Homo sapiens: one gene and its partner. The protein of the gene in region 2 purifies or fractionates together with the protein of the main gene of each other region. This does not show direct contact. Each region holds a gene or a part of one and is shown on either strand. Other genes may lie near its edges.

Region 1 (3,500 bases), 5.6 Mb from region 2:
AGTGGTGCAATCTCGGCTTACTGCAACCTCCACCTCCCGGTTCAAGCGATTCTCCTGCCTCAGCCTCCTGACTATCTGGGATTATAAGCGCCCACCAACACGCCCAGCTAATTTTTGTATTTTCAGTAGAGATGGGGTTGTGCCATGTTGGCCAGGCTAGTCTCGAACTCCTGACCTCAGGTGATCCGCCCACCTTGGCCTCCCAAAATGCTGGGATTACAGGCGTGAGCTACCGTGCCCGGCCCCAAAATAGTTTTATAACAAGGTCATTAGCAACCAAAATGTAAAAGAAATAATTTGTGATCCTGCCACCCCAATCAACGAAGCTTTTTTCCTTCCTTCCTGGCCCCTCCCCGTAGTGTCCATGATAGACATGCCTCACTGGTACATCCCTGCTTCTGTCAGGAGCCCTGCATGGGTGCCACAAAATCTATACAATTTTGAATGGATGCTTGATAGTCTACCAACCTGAATATACCACATTCAACTCAAATGATCCCTACCATTCAGTATTTAGATAGTCTATTAAAATATATATGTATGCATGTGTGTGTATATATACATATAATGTGTGTGTGTGTGTGTGTGTGTGTGTGTGTGTGTGTGTGTGTGTGTGTATGGCATTACTATAAGGACTTTGTAATAAATGTGGCCATGCCTGCTCAGGGCTTAAAAGCAAGGATGTGAGCTGAGCAACATGACCCACTGGTTTAGTTCCCCGCACACACCCCACTCCTGTCCCCACTCCTTCCCCACCCACCAAGCCCTCTTCTCACCAGCTATCCTGGGAGGGGCCTTGCAGAACAGTTACTCACATTCAGCGCATGGATGGGTTTGGTGACATTAAACTTGTCCATGGTGGACAGGATGATGGAGGGTGTGGTCAGGAAAAATAGCCCCAGGAAGAGGGTGAAGTTGATGCCCAGCCACTGTAGCCACCAGCGGAGGCCCTGGATAGAGAGGTTCTTCCTGCAGCGGGAGAGGGGATACAGGTCTCGAGGCTTGTCTCCCAGTGCTCGTGGCTTAGGTGGGTCAGAAGGTCAGATTTAGGCAGACCAAGAGACTAGCCTGGGGGCAAGTTCTCTGCACTGACCTTCAACTACAGAAAGACCAAATCTTAGGTCCCCAAGAGCTCAGAGGGAACAATTATTCTCTCAGATGTGGCTCCCCAGCTAAAGTCTGGGGGCCAGAACCTACCCAAAGAGATGGCATGAGCACCCAAGCAGGCCAAACAAGGCTCCAGCATGGCATTTATTTTTTCTTTTTCTGTTTTTTTTTTTTTGGAGACAGAGTCTTGCTCAGTCACCCAGGCTAGAGTGCAGTGGTGTGATCTCGGCTCACTGCAACCTCTGCCTCCCAGGTTCAAGCAATTCTCCTGCTCAGCCTCCCATGTAGCTGGGACTATAGGCGTGTACCACCACACCCAGCTAATTTTTTTGTATTTTTAGTAGAGACAGGGTTTCACCATGTTACCCAGGGTGGTCTTGAAATCCTGAGCTCAGGCAATCCGCCTGCCTCAGCCTCTCGAAGTGCTGGGATTACAGGTGTGAGCACCACGCCCGGCCCCAGCGTGGCATTTCTTAGACACATCTGCAATGCTTTGTGACTAACGACACATTCTTCCCAACGGGGCTGTAGCTGGGGTACAGGAAGGAGGAAGGCAGGGACAAAGGAGTGAAGGCATAGCTTGCACCTGCCCTGGCCTCTCATCCCAAAGAACAGACCCACAAAGCAATCCTGAGTTTAGGAAGCCTTGTGAACCAAAGAGCAAAACTGTCAGAGGCAGAACTAGAACCGAGCAGAGGGGAGCACTTCAAGCTCATTCTGTGCAAGGAGCTGAGGCAGGGCTGGACAGGCAGCTGCGCTGGGGCTTGCGCTGGGTGCCCTTACCCTCAGCACAGCACTGGAGGCTCACCAGGGCCCCCATGGACACAGCTCAGCTCCCCAGCACGGCCCCAGGCTGACACTGGACCTAAGTAAGGCTGCACAAGCTGCATGCGGCTACTGAGCATTTTAAATGTGGCTGGTGTGAATTGAGAGGTGCTAGAAGTGTAAAATACACACCAGATATTGAAGACTAAGTGTGAAAAAGAGAATGTAAAACATCTCACATTTTTCAAAAATTGCATGTTGAAATAACAGTTTGGATATATTGGGCGAGATACATTATTAAAATTAATTTCAACTGTTTCTTTTTACTTTTTTAGCATGGCTATTAGGAAATTTAAAATTAGATGCAGAACTGGCATTATATTTCTGCTGGGTAGCACTTGAATGCTAGGGAGGAACACTGGAGGGAAGGGCTGGGCAGATACCCCAGTTGGGCCACACCGAGCACATCACAGCATCACAGCCCACAGAATTGCAGATGTGTGGAGATCTCCATTGACTGCCAGGTCACACCTGTGCTCCAGGTGATGGGCAGCTCCCACCAGGAACCCAGGCCTCTCTCCCACCTCTCCTTGGTCTAGGAGCTTACCAGCAGATGTCCTCAGGGTCAGCAGCAAAGGTGACTGTCCACTTGGAGGTATAGAGCTCCCTGCTATGGGAGGACGGCTGGGGCTCACCTTTGCACTGAAGGCTCTGACACTTGCAGGCATTGAAATCTTTCAGGATGCTGCAAGGAAATGTAGCAACAGCCAGGCCCAGGCTACTCAGGTTACCAAGCACACATGTGGCAAGTGGGGACTGAGTAGGAGTGGGAGGCAGTGGCATAGGACCTTTGCTTTGTTGTGATTAGTGTATTATGAGTAACGCTATGTAAGAGGTGCCACGCTAGCACAGTGTGTGGAGAATTTTGTTTAATCCTCGCAACCACCAGCAACAAAGGGAGTACGATTCCCATTTTACAGATAAGGAAACTGAGGGCAACACACTGCTCTTCCATAGGGCCATCCCCCTCCACCCTGCCTGTTAAGCTGGAGCTCTGATCAGTGCTACTGCCAGGCCAGTGGCTCAACTTTTCATTCTGTCACTTTTTCCCCAGGCCCAAGTGTAGCAATAGACCACGTTACACATTGCCTGTTCCCAAGCTTCCCTCCTCAGGGCTCCCACCTCGACCCTCACCATCTCAACAGGTCACAGCTTTTCCTCCTTTAACCTCCCGTAAGGAGCCCAGCAGCCCCTCTACTCCTGCCTCAGATGCCTTCCCCTTTCCTCCTGCCCCAGTGTCTGCAAGGAGGCAGGAAGTCCTGTGTGAGTCCATTCCTAGTGTCACAATGCCTGGGGCAGTGGCTGGACACCTTTCCACACCCCTCTCCCGACCCACCCTGTGCTGCTCCTAAGGCGAGATGACACTGAGACCACAGGCATGAGAGCCTAGAGTCCCATGCCAAGGGCCACTGTGAAAAGCCACTCCCCAGGGTCAAGCTCCCCACTGCAGTGAGCGCCCCAGCGTGCCCCAGGGGTCTTCCCCACAGCTTTGCATTTGTGGGAAGGTGGGGAGCCACAGACAGAAGGATCTGTGGCCCAGAGCAGATGTCTGAAAGGAGGGTGCCTCC
Region 2 (3,500 bases):
CCACACCCAGCCTAACATTGCCCTTTTAATAACACTCAATGGTTTTTGATTGCACTTAACGTAAAATCCAAAGTTCTTAAATGGTGTATAAGGCCCTTGAGACTCTGCTTCCTGCCATTTCTTGGACCTTATACACCTCTCCCCTTATTTCTTATGCTTCAGACGCTCTTTTTTGTTGTTAAACCAGCCAACCACATTTGTGGCTAAGGTTTTTGCCCTCACTGTTGTCTATGCCTTGGATGCTTTTTGCAGATCTTTGCATGCTAGTTGCATCTTGTCATTCAAGTCTCAGCTCAAATGTCAACTCAGGGCAGCCTTTTCTGACCACCTGATCTAGATCTAAAGTAGTCAATACAACCCCCTTGTTCCTACTTGTTGTTCTCAATCATATCATCCTGTTTATTTTCATCATTATATTTCTACTGTCCAGTATGGTAACCTCTAGGCACATGTGGTTATTGAGCCTGTGAAATGTGGCCAGTGCAACTGAGGAACTGAATTTTTAAAATTCAAGTTAATTTTAATTAATTTAAATTTAAGTAGCCAAAGTGGCTAATGCCTATAATATAGTATGGCACAGTTATAGGTGCTAAAACTCAGGTACATACAGATTGAATACTTGTCCAAGTTACATAGGCAGTTGGGGATATAAATACACCCCAAACATCTAGATTAATTTGCACTATACCTATAGATTTATAAATATGGTTTAATGTATTTCTCTTCTAAATCAAATTCTTGAGTTTATGTATGTTGATATTATTGTGGCTATGATCAGTTCATGTAGAAAATGAACAGAATGGACCTCTTCACCAGTGAGCCCCTTTGTAAAACCTGTACAGATGATCTCAGACTTATGATGGTTTGGCTTCCAATTTTTTAGCTTTACAGTAATGTGAAAGCAATGTGTACTTTGTAGAAACCATACTTCAAATTTTGCACTTTGATCTTTTCCAGAGCTAGTGATACAATGGGTAAGATACTCTTTTGTGATGGTGGGTAGCAGCAGCAAATATGAGAGACTGTACTCTACGGTATTCAAGAAGTACTGTATTCAAGAAATTACATGAGATATTTTCAACCCTTCATGATAAAATAGACTTTGTGTTAGAAGATTTTGCCCAACTATAGGCTAATGTAAGTGTTCTGAGCACTTTTAAGATAGTCTAGGCCAAGCCGTAATATAAAGAGTTTTGAACGTAAACTTTTGTACAGTGAAATTTTACAGAGAAAAAATGACATTAGCAGAGCAGGTAAATAGGACCTGACTTAAACTGCTGATGGTATTTGCCTTTGCTTTTCTTCACTTTATTTATTAATGTTATAAATGTTTATTGGGAAGCAGAAATCATGAGATCATCTTAAATTTTTTTAGCTGATATAGTTGTAATTTCTTAACCTAGCTCATCTCTAGAGGATATGTAAAAACATAAAACACCTCAATTACTTGTGAATTATAGAGGTGTATCAGTTGGTTTAAAAGTGCTTTTATTGGGCTGAGCTCTTGGAAGACTCAGGTCCTTGGGTCATAGGCATCACGGACCAATCTGAAGAAAACTGCATTTCAGGGCCTGTTGAGGCTAAAACTCCAGTTGGAGGTCCAGAACATGTTCTCGTGACTCAGCAATTTCCTTGTCAGAATCCATTACCTGCAAATAGTGGCCAGGCTCAGTGGGTCTTGTGTCCTTCAAATTCTTCGCAGCGTGTTCCTTTGCAAGCACAAAAGCTTGTCTCCAGTCACAAGCCAGTTCAGAATCAGAAGCAGAAGCAATTGCAGGCAACCAGTGTACCTCATCCTGCCTCCAGGCCACTGAATAACACCCAAAACAGCAAGCAGTCCCCGCTGTCGGCACCTGAAAATAATCCTGAGGAGGAACTGGCATCAAAACAGAAAAATGAAGAATCAAAAAGAGGCAATGGGCTTTGGAAGACCTTGAAATTGGTCGCCCTCCGGGTAAAGGAAAGTTTGGTAATGTTTATTTGGCAAGAGAAAAACAAAGCAAGTTTATTCTGGCTCTTAGGGTGTTATTTAAAGCTCAGCTGGAGAAAGCAGGAGTGGAGCATCAACTCAGAAGAGAAGTAGAAATACAGTCCCACCTCCAACATCCTAATATAATCAGACTGTATGGTTATTTCCATGATGCCACCAGAGTCTACCTAATTCTGGAATATACACCACTTGAAACAGTCAATACAGAACTTCAGAAACTTTCAAAGTTTGATGAGCAGAGAACTGCTACTTATATCACAGAATTGGCAAGTGCCCTGTCTTACTGTCATTCAAAAACAGTTATTCATAGAGACATTAAGCCAGAGAACTTACTTCTTGGATCAGCTGGAGAGCTTGAAATTGCAAATTTTGGGTGGTCAGAACATGCTCCATCTTCCAGGAGGACCACTCTCTGTGGCACCCTGGACTACCTGCCCCCCGAAATGATTGAAGGTCGGATGCATGATGAGAAGGTGGATCTCTGGAGCCTTGGAGTTCTTTGCTGTGAATTTTTAGTTGGGAAGCCTCCTTTTGAGGCAAATACATACCAAGAGACCTACAAAAGAATATCACGGGTTGAGAATTCACATTCCCTGACTTTGTAACAGAGGGAGCCAGGGACCTCATTTCAAGACTGTTGAAGCATGTTCCCAGCCAGAGGCCAATGCTCAGAGAAGTACTTGAATACCCCTGGATCACAGCAAATTCATCAAAACCATCAAATTGCCAAAACAAAGAATCAACTAGCAAGTATTCTTAGGAATCGTGCAGGGGGAGAAATCCTTGAGCCAGGGCTGCTGTATAACCTCTCAGGAACATGCTACCAAAATTTATTTTACCATTGACTGCTGCCCTCAATCTAGAACACTAAAAGAAATATTTGTTTTACTGAGCAGGTGTGCCTTAACCTCCCTACTCAGAAAGCTCCACATCAATAAACATGACACTCTGAAGTGAAAGTAGCCACGAGAATTGTGCTACTTATACTGGTTCATAATCTGGAGGCAAGGTTCGACTGCAGCCACCCCATCAGTCTGTGCCAGGCATGGTGTCCTCCCAGGAGGCAAATCCAGAGTCTGGCTATGGGGAAAGTGACCACTTTGTGCTGACTCGATCGGTTAAGGAGCTGTCCAATAACCTTCCAAGTACCTGAGTGAGTGTGTAACTTATTGGGTTGGCCAAGCCTGGTAAAGCTGTTGGACTGAGTACGTGATTCTTTTTAAGTAGGAAAATAAAGATATTTGTACAGAAAAAAAAGTACTTTTATTTTACTGTGGACAGCTGCTAGAGATATAGTGATACCACTCTCTTCTATATTTGAATTATCAAAGTATGACTTTATGTTACTTTGTATATTTAATTACAAAAGAAGACTGTCCTCTGTAGCTTTAAAAGATGCTGAACCCTACCCTTTCCCAATGTTTACATTAATGACAACTGTTAAATTTTGTTTTTATAAAGTAAATACTATCTACTTAAGACATGAAGTCTGGTCTTACTGCTTTGTGGC

What was found. Proteins that work in one complex are often made in the same cells at the same time.
Region 1: the proteins of RAB3GAP2 (region 2) and TMEM63A purify together in Homo sapiens (co-immunoprecipitation; one large-scale study listed by IntAct). This does not show direct contact.

The regions. Positions count from the first base shown.
Region 1 is NC_000001.11:225,858,381-225,861,880, forward strand, and holds part of TMEM63A (mechanosensitive cation channel TMEM63A), read right to left. Parts: intron 2,618-3,500; coding exon 2,480-2,617; intron 970-2,479; coding exon 816-969; intron 1-815. UniProt on the Homo sapiens protein: Mechanosensitive cation channel with low conductance and high activation threshold. In contrast to TMEM63B, does not show phospholipid scramblase activity. Acts as a regulator of lysosomal morphology by mediating lysosomal mechanosensitivity.
Region 2 is NC_000001.11:220,265,954-220,269,453, reverse strand, and holds part of RAB3GAP2 (rab3 GTPase-activating protein non-catalytic subunit), read left to right. Parts: intron 1-1,738; exon of another isoform or gene 1,739-3,275; intron 3,276-3,500. UniProt on the Homo sapiens protein: Regulatory subunit of the Rab3 GTPase-activating (Rab3GAP) complex composed of RAB3GAP1 and RAB3GAP2, which has GTPase-activating protein (GAP) activity towards various Rab3 subfamily members (RAB3A, RAB3B, RAB3C and RAB3D), RAB5A and RAB43, and guanine nucleotide exchange factor (GEF) activity towards RAB18.